Homo sapiens: one gene and its partners. The protein of the gene in region 3 interacts with the protein of the main gene of each other region in a pairwise test. Each region holds a gene or a part of one and is shown on either strand. Other genes may lie near its edges.

Region 1 (3,840 bases), on a different chromosome or scaffold from region 3:
CAAAAAAAAAAAAAGAAACCAAGGTCTGCTTGGCAGATATGCTCGTTGCTACTATAAGGTTATCTTTGGAAATCAAGGAATCCTTTCTCCAGAGGAATCAGAAAGGTGATATTTGGTTTCTTTCACATTATTATGCCATTCTGTCACTTCCAGTCTGTTACCTGGGTTACTAAACACATAAATTCCTTTTTTTTTTTTTTTCTGAGATGGAGCCTCACTCTGTCACCCAGGCTGGAGCGCAGTGGCGCAGTCTCAGCTCACTTCAACCTCCACCCGCCGGGCTGAAGTGATTCTCCTGCCTCATCCTCCTGAGTAGCTGAGACTACAGGTGCATGCCACCATGCCTGGCTAATTTTTGATTTTTTAGTAGAGACAGGGTTTCACCATGTTGGCCAGGCTGGTCTTTAACTCCTGACCTCAAGTGATCTGCCCACCTTGGCCTCCCAAAGTGCTGGATTACAGGCATGACCCACCACATCCGGCCTTGAACATGGAAATTCTTTAAGGGAGCTTTAAGTTGCTCCTGTCTTGTCCAAAGAAGTGAGAAACAACCCCCACTTCTCTGAGATTCCCTCAAACTTTCTGATTTTTTAAACTTCCCTCTAAAGGGTTTCAGCCTGGAGGGGTGTATTAGTTTGCTAGGGCTGCCATAACAAAATGCCACAGACTAGGTGGCTTAAACAGCAGAAATTTATTTTCTCACATTTTTGAAGGTTGGAAGTCTAAGACCAAGGTGCCAGCAGGGTTGTTTTTCTCTGAACTTCTCTCCTTGGCTTGCAGATGGCAACCTTCTTGCTGCTTTATTGTGACATGATAGTCCCTCTGTATGCACACATCCTTGGTGTCTTTTCCTCTTCTTAAAAGGATACGAGTCATATTGGATTAGACCCACTGTAACTTAAGCACTTTAAAGACCTTGTCTCCAAATACAGTTACATTCTGAGATCCTGGAGGCTGGGACTTCAACATGTGAATTTGGGGGAAACACAGTTCATCTTAGAACAAGGGAGATCCACCACACATACACACACACACACACACACACACACACACAGACACCCTTTTATTTCCTCTTTTATCAGAAAAGTCCTTATTTCTCTTTCCTCAGTACAGGGCATGTCTCTTAACTTTGATTATTATTCTCTCTCTCTTTGTCTTTTAAAGAGATGGGGTCTTACTACATTGCCCAGGCTAGAATGCAGTAGCTATTCATAGGTGTGATCATAGCACACCACAGCCAGGAACTCCTGGTCTCAAGTGAAGGTCCTCCTGTTTAAGCCTTCTGAGTAGCTGAAACTACAGGTGTGCACCACTGTGCTTGGCTCCTAAACTTGGATTCTTGCAAACTGTAGCTCATACTAAAGCTATGTGGTCCAGCTGTGGCACGTCAAGCTCTTGATAAATAAAAGGAGCTGTTAGAATGTAGAAAAAGTCCTCAAAATTGTCGTTTTATTACACACATACACACACATACACACACATCAGTTTTGAGGTTTGAAGCTGAATAGTAAATGACCTTTTTTCCCTTTAACAACCATAATTTTCCTTGAGGCAGCCTATGCCTTTAGTTGAATGGGGAAAAGGTCATATGTCAGAAAGGAGGATGAGAAGCGTATTACAAAAAAATGCTTTTTGGGGGAAAATTTTGGAATATAATAGTAGTCTCTCTTATTCTTGAGAGGTTTGAGTAAATTGATTAAAATTCTTAAAACAGTGCCTACTACATTGTTATTCTACAGCTACTTCCTTATTTCTTTTCTGCCTTTTTTCCAGGATGGGACTCTGTCTGTGTTCCTGCCCAAGATCTGGTCCCAGCCCTAGCCTACCTGCCTCACCCTTTGCTCCTGAATGTCTGACTGTTTTTGTTATTTGCTTGTTTTCAGTTTCCTGGTTCATTTCCAGTTAGGCTTAGTTGGCTCCTCCCATAGGTGTCTTAGCTGACTCCCTAGAGCTTGCCTGTTCTTCTGTAATTTGAGTATCAACCTTCTACAGTTCTAATATGCTGCACATGATAATTCCTGCCTTTGCCTCTGCCTCACCAGCCATAATCTGGCCAACTTTTAACTGTAATTTCTACCTCAAATTATTCATAAACCAATCAAAACTGATAACTCTTCCAAACGATATCCCTTTCCTACCTTCTTGGTTCCTATAAATGATGCCCATGCAACTGTTATTTAAGACTGAGGTTAGAAATTTGGTGTTGTCTTTGATTCCTTCAGTGTATCATATTGAGTGCTTCAACATGCAGAGGAGTTACTTGATCGAATTAAAAAAAACGTCATTCTGACTGCAGAATAGAGAACTTGGCAGATCCCTAACTAGTCCCCTTTCCTTGGTCTCCATTTCTTTTTGTCAGTTCTCCTGTGAAGCCAGCCTGAACTTCCTCAAACCTTATTTTCAGAGTGGCTGTATGACTCACTGACTACATCAGGTTAGAATTCTGCTGTCTCATCTTTAAGGTCTTCCATAGAATGGCTCTAGCTACCTTTGTCTCCCACTATCTCCTGACCCAAATTGTATTTCAGGCTGATTGTTTTGCTTACTTTTGCCTTCCCACCTGCCTTTCTGTGTCATGTTAATTCCTGTTTCTGTGCCTTTGTTCCTGCTGTTTGACTCTTAGTTTCTTGCCTCTTTTCTGTATATTTATTATACCAATTTTTTTTTGTTTTTTTTTTTTTAATTGAGGCAGAGTCTTGCTCTGTCGCCCAGGCTGGAGTGCAGTGGTGTGATCTTGGCTCACTGCAAGCTCCGCCTCCCGGGTTCACACCATTCTCCTGCCTCAGCCTCCTGAGTAGCTAGGACTACAGGCACCCGCCACCAGGCCCAGCTAAATTTTTTGTATTTTGAGTAGAGAAGGGGTTTCACCATGTTAGTCAGGATGGTCTCCATCTTGATCTCCTGACCTCATGATCCACCCGCCTTGGCCTCCCAAAGTGTTGGGATTACAGGTGTGAGCCACCGCACCTGGCCTTTTTTTTTTTTTTTTTTGAGATGGAGTCTTGCTCTGTTGCCCAGGCTGCAGTACAGTGACGCAATCTTGGCTCATTGCAACCTCCGCCTCCCGGGTTTAAGCGACTCTCCTGCCTCAGCCTCCTGAGTAGCTGGGATTACAGGCACGCACCACCAGGCCTGGCTAAATTTTTTTGTATTTTTAATAGAGATGGGGTTTCACCATGTTGGCCAAGCTGGTCTCGAACTCCTGACCTTGTGAACCGTCCACCTTGACCTCCCAAAGTGCTGGGATTACAGGCATGAGCCACCACACCTGGCCTATTCTACCAATCTTTTATCCAGCTTCTGATCCATGTCCACTATGAAGCCCCCTGGGACTTCTGACCTGGAATATGCTTTTCCTTCTTTTCTTTTTCTTTTTTTTTTTTTTTGAGATGGAGTTTTGCTCTTGTCGCCCAGGTTGGAGTGCAATGGCGCGATCTCAGCTTACTGCAACCTCCGCCTCCCAGGTTCAAGTGATTCTCTAGCCTCAGCCTCCCAAGTAGCTGGGATTATAGGCACCCACCACCATGGCCGGCTAATTTTTTTTTTTTTTTTTGTATTTTTAGTAAAGATGGGGTTTTACCACATTGGCCAGGCTGGTCTCGAACTCCTAACCTCAGGTGATCCACCCACCTGGGCCTCCCAAAGTGCTGGGATTACAGGTGTGAGCCACTGCTCCCAGCCATGCTTTTCCTTCTTTATACACCATTTACATTTATTGTTTGAGCTTCATTAACTTATTTTGTTCATTTTTTACTAATAGCTTATTGTTTGTGAACTTCGTTTTCTCAACGAAATTTTAAGTTCCTTGAGGAAGGACTATGTTTTAAATTTTTTCCTGCG
Region 2 (3,840 bases), on a different chromosome or scaffold from region 3:
CTACTCCAGCCTGAGCAACAGAGCAAGACCCTCTCTCAAAAAAAAAAAAAAATTGCCAACCAGCTGCAGTGGCTCATGCCTGTAATCCCAGCATGTTGGAGGCTGAGGCACGTGAATCACTTGAGACTAGGAATTTGACAACAGCCTGGCCAACATGGTGAAACCCTGTCTCTACTAAAAATACAAAAATTAGCTGGTCGTGGTTGTACATGCCTGTAATCCCAGCTACTCCGGAGGCTGAGGCAGGAGAATCACTTGAACCCTGGAGGCAGAGGTTGCAGTGAGCCAACATCACACCAGCCTGGACGACACAGTGAGACTCTGTCTCATAAATAAATAAATAAATAAATAGTGCTAAAATACACAAAACATGAAATTTGCCCTCTTTTTCTTTTTTTCTTTGAGATGGAATTTCACTCTTGTTGCCTAGGCTGGAGTGCAGTGGCGCGATCTCGGCTCACTGCAACCTCTGCCTCATGGGTTCAAGCAATTATCCTGCCTCAGCCTCCCAAGTAGCTGGGATTACAGGCATCTGCCACCACGCCCAGCTAATTTTTGTATTTTTAGTAGAGATGGGGTTTCTCCATGTTGGTCAGACTGGTCTTGAACTCCTGACCTCAGGTAATCCACCCACCTTGGCCTCCCAAAGTGCAGGGATTACAGGCATGAGCCACCGCGCCCAGCCTCCTCTTAACCACTTTTTCTTTCTTGAGATGGAGTCTCGCTCCGTCACCAGGCTGGAGTGCAATGATGCGATGTCAGCACACTTCAACCTCTGACTCCCTGGTTCAAGCGATTCTCCTGCCTCAGCCTCCCGAGTAGCTGGGATTACAGGCACGCGCCACCATGCCTGGCTCATTTTTGTATTTTTAATAGAGACAAGGTTTCACCACGTTGGTAAGGCTAGTCTTGAACTCCTGACATCAGGTAATCCCACCTGCCTCGGCCTCCCAAATTGCTGGGACTACAGGTGCCTGCCACCATGCCCAGCTAATTTTTTTTTGTATTTTTAGTAGAGACGGGGTTTCACCGTGTTACCCAGGATGGTCTCGATCTCCTGACCTTGTGATCCACCCGCCTTGGCCTCCCAAAGTGCTGGGATTACAGGCGTGAGCCACCGCGCCCTGGCCCTCTTAACCATTTTTAAGTGTGCTGCTGAGTGTTGTACATTTACACTGATGTGCATTCAATCTGCAGAACTCTTCATCTTGCAAAACAAACTCGATACCCATTAAACAATTCCCTATTTTCCCCTTTCCTCTCAATGATAACCTTCTCCAATTAAAAATTTTTGAGTGGCCGGGTGCAGTAGCTCACGCCTGTAATCCCAGCACTTTGGGAGGCCGAGGCAGGCAGATCACCTGAGGTCAGGAGTTCAAGACCAGCCTGGCCAACATGGTCAAACCGCATCTCTACTAAAAATACAAAAATTATTTTTTTGTATTTTTACCACCACCTGCGTGGTCATGGGTGCCTGTAGTCCCAGCTACTCGGGAGACTGAGGCAGGAGAATCACTTAAACCTGGGAGGTGAAGATTGTAGTGAGCCGAGATCGCGCCACTGCACTCCAGCCTGGGCGACAGAGCGAGACTGTCTCAAATAAATAAAAATAAATAAATAAAATGGTGCCAGATGACTGAATCTACCAGAGCCAGCACTGAACAGAGGAAAGACAACAGTTTATTAGTCACACAGACTCACAGGGAAGGTGTCCCCATATGCCAAGAGGGTCACATGAAGCTACAGAGACTGTTGGGGGGGGCGGGCTGTGTAGTAACAAGAGGGTGGGGTGCCTCCTGGCTCCTTCAAAAGGATGTTCTTTGCTTTCATGAATCATTTCATGGACTAGCAACCAGCAGGGAGGTGAAAACTTATCAGAGTGAGGACCAGATGGGGTGCCGCTGGCTCAGCTGATGGGAGAACTAGCCAGGTGGGAAGACTTTCTCATGGAGTGAGAGCAAAGGAACTCACACTTAGGACTTTGGGGGGCCTTCTGAGGACCAAAGATGCCAAGGAAGGACTCGATGTGTAGAATCTTATGATATATCCAAACGAAGGCCTTTTTTGGGCTGGGCACGATGGCCCATACCACTATTTCCAACACTTCAAGAGGCCAAGGTCGAAAGACTGCTTGAAGCTAGGAGTTCCAGACCAGCCTGGGTAACATACTGAGACCTAATCTCTACCAAAAAAAAAAAAAAAAATTAAAATATTTTTAAGAGACAGAGTCGCCAGGCGCAGTGGCTCACGCCTGTAATCCCAGCACTTTGGGAGGCCGAGTTGGGTGGATCACGAGGTCAGGAGTTCAAGACCAGCCTGACCCACATGGTGAAACCCTGTCTCTACTAAAAATACAAAATAAATTATCCGGGCGTGGTGACACATGCCTGTAGTCCCAGCTACTCAGGAGGCTGAGGCAGGAGAATCACTTGAACCCGGGAGGCAGAGGTTGCAGTGAGCCAAGATTGTGCCACTGCACTCCAGCCTGGGCAACAGAGCCAGACTCCGTCTCGAAAAGAAAAAAGAAAAGATAATGGATGAGATGTGGCCCAGAGCTGACAAGGGAGGAGTCCAGACTGACTCAGAACTTCCCAGTCAAAAAGATTGGTTGGTGCCAGGTGCAGTGGCTCACATCTGTAAACCCAGCACTTTGGGAGGCCAAGGCAGGTGGATCACAAGGTCAGGAGTTCAAGACCAGCCTGGCCAACATAGTGAAACCCCGTCTCTACTAAAAATACAAAAATTAGCCAGGCATTGTGGCGCACACCTGTAATGCCAGCTACTCGTGAGGCTGAGGCAGGAGAATCGCTTGAATTCAGGAGGTGGAGGTTGTGGTGAGCCGAGATCATGCCACTGCATTCCAGCCTGGGCAACAGAGCAAGACTCCGTCTCAAAAAAAAAAAAAAAAAAAAAGACTGATTGGATGGATGGAGGTGCCAATGACCATGAGGGGGACCCAGGGAGGAGGGTGCGCTACAAGGAACAAGGGATGAGCTATTTCCCACACACGGCCTATGCAGTCACTACTGAACATTCTGGGGTGCGGGTGACCAGGGAGTTATGCAGGCATTTCGACGTAATCGCAGCTAATATGACGCGGTGCTACTAGCCAGATGCGTGCTAGCTCATCTTCCACAATTTCTCTTCCAGATACCCCACCTGGTGGCCCGTCCTCACTTGGGAACCAGTCAACATGCCTTCTGGAAGTCTCTCTTGTCACTCCAAGAAAAGGTGAGCCTCAAGCCATGTACCTACATGTATTCATCTACACAGAGCAGCTGACCCCACGGAGTGTAGGCCAACCACAAACGCGTGATTGAGGAATTCGTGGGGTGGATTAATGACACCATCAAAGGGGCAGTTTCCTCCTGTGTTTCAACTCATCAACCTTTCCACGTCAGCATTTTGTCCTGACACGTGTCATCTCCTGGCTGAAAGATGGCTACCAAACCATCTCATACACGCAGGGGCAACAAGGAAGGCTAAGAGGCCAGGTACAGTGGCTCACGCCTGTAATCCCAGCACTTTGGGAGGCCAAAGCGGGCAGATCACCTGAGGTCAGGAGTTCAAGACCAGCCCGGACAACATGGCAAAACCCCGTCTCTACTAAAAATACAAAATTAGCAGGGTGTGGTGGAGCATACCTGTAGTCCCAGCTACTCAGAGGCTGAGGCAGAAGAATCACTTGAACCTGGGAGGTAGAGGTTGCAGTGAGCCAAGATTGCACCACTGCACTCCAGCCTGGGCAACAGAGTGAGACTCCATCTCTTAAAAAAAAAGCAAAGAAAGGAAGGGTAAAGGCCTTCTTCCTCCCTGTTACCAGTCACATCCACGTAACCC
Region 3 (3,989 bases):
AAATTAAGGAATACAAAGTCATTAGTTTTCTGGATGTTTTCATTTTCTCTTTTTTCTACTTCTGGCAGTATCAGTTTTTTTTTTGGTTAGGGTCTTTTTTTTTCCACAAAGATTTAAAGTTAAAAAACCCCTCACAAAAATCTTCATAGGAGTTGCCTTATAGGTGATGGGAAGAAGAAAACAACAAAGGTTGAGCTGTGGATACCACGCAGAGTGACCAGCTGGGTTCACTCCTTTGATAAGACTCACATACTCTGTCTCTTATCAAGTGGGCTGTTCTGAGCCCTGCTTCAGGAAAATTACAAAGATCAGCTTTTGAGGTGGATCCTCAAAATTCCAAACCAGGTAAATAAATCTATGCAAAATAATAGCTAATATTTACTGAGTGTTTTTGTGTGCCAGGCATTGTGCTAAGTGCTTTACATGGATCATCTTACTTAATACTCAGAACCACCTTATGATGTAGGTACTATTATCCTCATTTTAGAGATGGGGAAACTGAGGCTTAGGACAGATTGAAGATGATGGAACCCTTGAGGATGCCAAGAATCTAATTGTAATTGCTAAATGTAATTGCTTAAAATACACATTGGCAGAAAGTGTTAATACTCACCTGTAAATAAATTAGTGACATTCTTTCTTTGCCAACAGTGGGCAATTCTGAACTGGATGCTTTTTTGGGATGGAGTTTGGAGAGTGGGTTGGGAGATGACATTAGTAGGCTGATGAATATTCCAGCCAGTTCTTTTCATTTGGGTGGTGATGGTGTCATTCCAATGAACGCTTAGTTCATTTGCATGAGCAATGCAGACATCCTTGCTAAACTCAAAATTAGATTTCAGAGCCAAAACAGTGAATTTGGTACAAAGTAGTGGTGACTGAGGAACTGAAAGCCAGATGCTGTCAGCTGCCTTTGGAGTCCCTAATCCAGAACAGCTTCTTTCATCACCATCCCTCCTCCCCATACCCTGTCTTCCCTCCCCACCCCCAGTGCCTGGTACCTGCAGTTTGGACTGAAGCACGTGGAGTTGGCTCTCCAGCTCCCTGTGCTGGGTCCCAAGGGTCCTCCAGTCCTCCTTCAGAGCCTCATACTGGCTCCTCCACTCTTCACACTTCTGCTCTGCCAGGGCCAGGGATCGCTGAGGGAGATCAGAGAGGAGAGGGCTCCAGGGAGTTGTGCAGCTGGCTCCCCTTGTTCCCCAAGCTGCCTGGAGTCCCCAGCCCCATGTCTATGTGGCATCCCCATACCTGTGTGCTCTGTAGTTGCTGCTCTGCATTCATTTTCTCCTCCAGCACTTTCTGCAGTGACTCCTTGGCCTTCTGCTCATAGCTGTTTTTCTGGTCTTCCATCTCCAGTAGTACTTTTTTCATTCCCCAAGGGGAGTATTTCTGTAAATTTGATGCAATTCAACAAATACACATTGAGCTTCTGTGTGCCAAATCCTGAGCTGGGATACAGAAATGAAAAGAAGTTGGTTCTTCCCCCAGGCAGAGATACCAGTAATCTAGTGAGCCATTTCTTTTAGGGTAGAGCTAGCAAGAAGAGTCCCTCAGGCAATGAGAGATGAGTGGAGGGCATAATAAACAGTGCCCTAGGCTTCCTGGGCATTATATCTGAGGCCTTCTGCAAGCTCTTGGAATCCAAGATGTCTAAACAGGACTCATCTTTCTAAACATGTTCTTTTTTCTTGGGGTTCCTATCTCAGTGACCAGAATCATCATCCATCCAGGCTTTTCCAAACCCTAAACCAGGGAGTCAATCTTCATTTTCTCTCTCACTTCCTCCCCCTCTAATCAGTTGGTCATTGAGCCTTGACAATTTCCTTAACAGCTCATATCTGTCTCCTCTCTATCCCTACTGCTGCTTCCTTAGTTCAGGCTCTAGTAGTAGTGTTATGTGGATTAATGCAACAGCCTCCCTTTCTTCAAATCTTGCCTCCCTTCAGTCCCTTTTCAGTTCTGCATTTAGAGGGTTCTTTCTAAAATGCAAATCTGATCTTGCCACTTCCTGTATAAATCTCTCCATGGATTCTCAGCATACTAAGAATCACATCCAAACTCCTTGTCATGGCTCCTCTTACACGCCTAGACTTTCATCCCATGCTACTTCCACCTAAGCTGAGATGTTTGCAGATCCCCCAGCACTCTGTTTTTTGGGGCTCTGCCTTTACCCATGTAGCTTCTTCTGCCTACAGCCAGTTAACTTCTACTAATACTCAAGATTCAGTCCAGTATCATCAGTTCTGATAAATTGACCAACTACCCCCATCCCACAATGTCTTATGGATTAGGTAGCTTTTCTTAGGGTTCATGGTGTTCACATAGTATCCCCTGCATGCCTCTATTATTCTACTCTATTGACTCATCTGTCTTTCATACTGGATTGTAAACTCCTTCAGGGAGGGAGCATACTGCTGCTGCTTTAAAAAAAAATCATTGTAGCTTCTTTACAATGCCTAATGAACTTCATGTTTTAAAATTAATACATTTGCATTATAAAATTCCTCCTGGCTGCAGGATTAAGGAGACACAAGCGCAGCTTTGCAAATTCACTGGGGGTCTTGCCTTCTCCCTTTCTTTCATCTTTATGCCCTGTGATTTCGGAGAAGGCAGGCAGATTTTATTGTCAATTCTGGATTACCTACTGTGTAAGCAGTAGACCAGATGACAACAATTTAGGGATCAATATGAAATCATTTCCATTTAGCTTTGGAATTGTCTGAAATTTTGGATTTAAATTTGAGTGGGTCTTATAGTTTTGGAACTTTCATTAAAAACCAGATCCAGGAATTAACCTGGTTGAGGTCATATGTAGGGGATGTCCCAGTTATTGGACATCCAATGACCATCCATGCTGGGCACTGGTTATGTGTTATTCCCTATTGAAAATGAATAGACTGGCATTCTGGATTATATATTAGTCTCCTGTGAACTTGGTTGGCATTATTTAGTCCTGACAAAGCAAGTTATACTGAAAAAATGAAAGTTGTGGACCAAGAAACTTATAGACTCCATAAACTCTCTTCCCCTGTAAGACGCCATCAATGTGGCCAGGACTGTCTTCTCTCTCTAACTCCAGATGGGAGAATTCTGCCTGTTTCACCCCATTCTCTGATTTGATATCTTCCCACCTGTCAGGTATCCATCACTTCTCAAATGTGAAAGCTGATTTCTTTCTATCTCTTATAAACCAAGATTAGGCCAATCAAGAGATTACTAATGCTGGAAAATGGTGTTACAGAAGAGCCAAGTAAAAGAGCTTTTACATTCTTCCAGGGGTTGCTAGAAAAAACAGAAAAAAGTTACCCATGGAATGAAAATAATTTTGTAAGACTTCATTATAACATCTAACTCATCTGTTCAAAGATTAGGATGCGTAAAGGGCTGTCTGGGTGATGTGAGTCTTTACCAAGGGCCTTCCCCTACAGTGTCAGGTATTCTCAAGGTTCCCCTGGAGCTGACAAACTGGTTAGTGCTGGGATTCCTCCAGGGTGCAAAGAGAAGGATACTGGGAGAAAGGGAGAGGAAGAAGGATGGAGACAGTGATCTAGTGAATTAGAGACTAAAGTGTAAATGGCCAAGCCAGAAATGGGTAAGTAGGAATGGGTGTGTTATTCTCTATCTGGTGGTGTTTCTCGAAAGTAAGATTGAGGTTCAAAAACATTCTTCTCATTTAATTCTAGATTCCTGAGATGGAAGTATCCTTCAGAATGCTTACCTGGGTACAGGTGTATAGCTGGTTTTCTAAGGATCTCAGTTTCCCCTTCAGTTTGTCTTCATTAAGCTGTCCCTGGAGCAAATGGGATGAGTTAATGAGCTTGGGGCAAAATCTAGTCTGCAAAGAGTTTGACTCTATATTCCTATTCTACTGCCCAGCACATGGTTGGTGCTCAAACAGTGAACTCTTTCAGGAGGCAGGCAGGAGCAAAGATGACAAAGGATGCTGGATAGAAGAGGATCTTCTCCTGTTTCTCTGGACTAGGACAAGA
Region 4 (3,840 bases), on a different chromosome or scaffold from region 3:
TTTAATGGGATAGAGGGGAAGGCAACACGTCTTATTTTATCAAAAATTGCAAAGCTACACGCTCTTTGTGGAGAAGCACCAAAAGGAAAACCTTAGTTTGGAAGGATTCATTGTAAATAAAAATAGTAACTCAGCCCTCCATTCAGGGAGGAGAAAGGCATTTTAAAGCTAGTATATTGAAGGTTTCCCCCTTGACTTCAGTGTTGAATGGCTCTTGCAAGGACTTCTTGAAGGTTTTTTTTCTCACTAGCCAGTGTTTGGCCGACAGGTTGCACCTCTGCCTGAGAAGATGCCTGAAAGAGAAAAGGCAGCATTTGTTACAGGCATAATGTTGTAGAGGAAGAAACGACAACAGCAGTCCCCTGCATTCATTTTAGAACCAAGATGACGTCTCACAGTTGCTCTGATAAAAACACAGGGACTCCCTGCTCTTAGCATACCTATAGTGCTCACCTAGAAAATCTATGAGTTAAGCACTACAAACATTTTGTTGTAGGAGCGACGTACGACAGTCCAATTGCAGAATTATGAAAAGCATTGGCAGTAGCAACTCTGTGGTGGACACACCCACCTTTGCTCTCCTAGCTCCTTTTCTGTCATTCTGTTTGACTTTCTCAAGGGAGCAAAAGAAAGTTGTACTACCAGTTAAGTCTCCAAGGTGTCTTTAACCCCTCCATCCCCCTAGCCTTTTTGGAAGGGAGTGGTGTGGGAGATATGTGGAGACCCTTTGTGCAGGGCAGGGGTGGTGGTGCAAAGTTATCAGTAACTCTGGGTTTCTCTAAGCACTTGGTGCTGTCAGAGATGCTTGGAGATGGAGTACCAAATGAGCTGGGGAGAAGATCCTGCAGAACAGGGGTGGCCAGGTCATGGCCCCATACTGGAAAAGTGTACCTGTGCAGAAATAAAGTAGGTGTACAGATAAGTTGTGCTGCTCTTGTCTTGGGATGGCAGGGTTGGTGGTGAAGAAAGTGCCATAGAAATGGCAGCACAGAGGCACCCTCATCCTCAGCAGGCAGCAGGGGTGAACAGTAATGGAAAGCACCGCAGTGAGCCTTCATCATCATAGGAAGACCAGCAACTCCTTTTTTAGTACCATTGGCTGTCTTCTTCCAGTATCTCATTTGTTTAAATAATAGTTCTTGGCTCAACAAGCTTCTAAGTAGTGGCCAACTGTTACAGCAGGGTTGGTGGGCAAATTTTCTTTTTGAGTTCCTCCACTTACCAGGTTAAACCCCTTCACATGGGTGCTCCATTGCCGCCATGGGCTTTTTGTCAGGGATAAGGGTGCAGCCAGCCAGCATGTCCAGAGAGGCCAAGATAGAGTCATACAGGCGATCTGCGTGGCTCTCCAGCTCACCAGACTGCTTTGCGATCCTCCCAAGGACATCCTCTAAAACTAACAATGAGGTTCAAAGAAATTAAACCAGAAATAAAACCCATGCAAGTGTTGTCCAGTAAGCATTTTCAAAAGAACATACAAGGGTATAGTATTTTACACAAAGTAGGACCTGGCAGTAGTTTCTGAATGTCTGCCCTTTTTTAACAGTGATTCTCCAGGGACTTCTGTTGCACTGGAGAACCTATGTTGTTAACTTCTGATTAAAGCTAAGAAAAGAACTCACTGACTCCACTTTGAAATTACGTAATTCACAGAAGGGCACAGAGATATTATGGTTTTCTGATGGCTGGTATTACCTGACTTTAGAGGTAAGACAGGTATCTCTGTAAGGGCACATCCAGATCCTCTTGGGCATAAGGCTTAAATAAAACGACATGCCAAGGTTCAGATGCTTACCCCTGCTACCAGGTCTATCAGTTTCTATTGGCTGGGAAGAATGTTATTTCACATGGGTGGTCTGTAATAGATTTGGGAGTGCTTGAGACCCTTTGTTTTGTGGGCCTCAGTGAACAGACTGAAAAAGAAAATGACCTGGCCAGGCGCAGTGGCTCACGCCTGTAATCCCAACAACACTTTGGGAGGCCAAGGCGGATGGATTGCCTGAGGTCAGGAGTTGGAGACCAGCCTGACCAACATGGAGAAACCCCGTCTCTACTAAAAATATAAAAAAATTAGCCGGGTGTGGTGGCGCATGCCTGTAATCCCAGCTACACGGGAGGCTGAGGCAGAATGGCTTGAACCCGGGAGGCAGAGGTTGTGGTGAGCCAAGACTGTGCCATCGCACTCCAGCCTGGGCAACAAGAGTGCAACTCTGTCTCAAAAACAAAACAAAACAAAAAAATGACCCGAAAGCAGTCTAAGGGAAGATTCACTCCCGCAGTGTCAGAATTGTTGTTCATGTGAGGAAGGGATGGGCTAGGGTCAGAGTGCATCTCACACAGCAGGCTTTTTTCTTTCTTTTTTCAAAAATTTATTTTTGTTAAGCACAAAGGCTGTCTTAGTTTCCTGCACCTTTATCAGCTGTGCTTATACTCTCCCTAGTTTCCTGCCACAGCTGTAACATCTGTCAGTAGAGGAAGGGAAAGAGGAAGCTTATCTGCAGACAATGCTGACTGGATGAGTAGAAGGAGAAGGAACACAGGCTGGCTGTATTGAGATCTCCTAGGGAAGCCACATCAGTGCGGTGTCATCAGGGCAAAGTGCTGTCCACAAAGAGAGTTGGCAGAGTGTGGCAGAGGATTGCAGTCAGGCGCACGGTAAAGCTTGGCTGTAAGGGTGGCTGGGCTGGGTTCTACCCTCCAGTTTCTTTTTTTTTTTTTTTGAGATGGAGTCTCACTCTGTCACCCAGGCTGGAGTGCAGCGGCACAAATCTCGGCTCACTAAAACCTCCGCCTCCCAGGTTCAAGCGATTCTCCTGCCTCATCCTCCCCAGTAGTTGGAATTACTGGCGCCCACCACCACGCCCGGCTAATATTTGTATTTTTAGTAGAGACAGGGTTTCGTCATGCTGGCCAGGCTGGTCTCGAACTCCTGACCTCAGGTGATCCACCCGCCTTGGCCTCCCAAAGTGCTGGGATTACAGGCATGAGCCACCGCAGCTGGCTAACCCCTCTGGTTTCATTAGACCTTTGCCCAGTCTTCTTGTGCGATGTCACAGAAACATTGGTTCAGGGACAACTTTATGTTTTTGAACTTTTATTTATCTATTTATTTTGAGACGGAGTCTTACTCTTGTTGCCCAGGCTGGAGTACAGTGGCGTGATCTCGGCTCACTGCAACCTCTGCCTCCCGGGTTCAAGCGACTCTCCTGCCCCAGCCTCCTGAGTAGCTGGGATTACAGGCGCCCGCCACCATGCCCAGCTAATTTTTTTACTTTTAGTAGAGATGGGGTTTCGCCATGTTGGCCAGGCTGGTCTTGAACTCCTGCCCTCAGGTGATCTGCCCGCTTGGCCTCCCAAAGTGTTGAGATTACAGGCGTGAGCCACTGCGCACGGACGCTTTTGAACTTTTATTTAGACTGTCAGAATGTTTGGTTGGGGCCAAATAAAAGAAGTTGGGAAGGACTGGAACAAAACATGTTTGTAGGCTGGCTCTATGGACTTTTGACAGCATGCTCCTGGCGGAAGAAAAGTTAAGTTTTGCACCCGCTGGAGACAGACACTGACGTCTCAAGGGGGAAACAGCCACATTCCTGATTATTTCAAGCAGATGGATGGGGAAGGGCTGTGTGTCAATCTGAAAGAGCCTGGATACATATCTGAAAACCAAAGAAAACCCCAAAGCCAGTAAAAAACCTCTTGAGAGAGCAAAGTGGGACTAAGCACAGAAAAGTATTATTAAATTGATTTTAAAATGAAGGTCAAAAAACCTGAAGCTTTTAAGAGGCCTTTTTTTTTTTTGAGAAGGAATTTCGCTCTTGTTGCCCAGGCTGGAGTGCAATG

Evidence for each region.
Region 1: the proteins of TRAF3IP3 (region 3) and GOLM2 interact in a two-hybrid assay, tested with the Homo sapiens proteins (one large-scale study listed by BioGRID).
Region 2: the proteins of TRAF3IP3 (region 3) and NLRP12 interact in a two-hybrid assay, tested with the Homo sapiens proteins (one large-scale study listed by IntAct).
Region 4: the proteins of TRAF3IP3 (region 3) and CEP68 interact in binary tests that used the Homo sapiens proteins (3 or more experiments, as listed by UniProt).

The regions. Positions count from the first base shown.
Region 1 is NC_000015.10:44,294,895-44,298,734, forward strand, and holds part of GOLM2 (protein GOLM2), read left to right. Parts: intron 1-3,840.
Region 2 is NC_000019.10:53,814,299-53,818,138, reverse strand, and holds part of NLRP12 (NACHT, LRR and PYD domains-containing protein 12), read left to right. Parts: intron 1-3,150; coding exon 3,151-3,231; intron 3,232-3,840. UniProt on the Homo sapiens protein: Plays an essential role as an potent mitigator of inflammation. Primarily expressed in dendritic cells and macrophages, inhibits both canonical and non-canonical NF-kappa-B and ERK activation pathways.
Region 3 is NC_000001.11:209,772,749-209,776,737, reverse strand, and holds part of TRAF3IP3 (TRAF3-interacting JNK-activating modulator), read right to left. Parts: intron 3,791-3,989; coding exon 3,719-3,790; intron 1,449-3,718; coding exon of another isoform or gene 1,390-1,448; coding exon 1,249-1,389; intron 1,165-1,248; coding exon of another isoform or gene 1,150-1,164; exon of another isoform or gene 1,140-1,149; coding exon 1,002-1,139; coding exon of another isoform or gene 614-1,001; intron 1-613. UniProt on the Homo sapiens protein: Adapter protein that plays essential roles in both innate and adaptive immunity. Plays a crucial role in the regulation of thymocyte development.
Region 4 is NC_000002.12:65,080,092-65,083,931, reverse strand, and holds part of CEP68 (centrosomal protein of 68 kDa), read right to left. Parts: intron 3,657-3,840; coding exon of another isoform or gene 3,595-3,656; exon of another isoform or gene 3,082-3,594; intron 1,397-3,081; coding exon 1,227-1,396; 3' UTR 1,223-1,226; intron 294-1,222; 3' UTR 1-293. UniProt on the Homo sapiens protein: Involved in maintenance of centrosome cohesion, probably as part of a linker structure which prevents centrosome splitting. Required for localization of CDK5RAP2 to the centrosome during interphase. Contributes to CROCC/rootletin filament formation.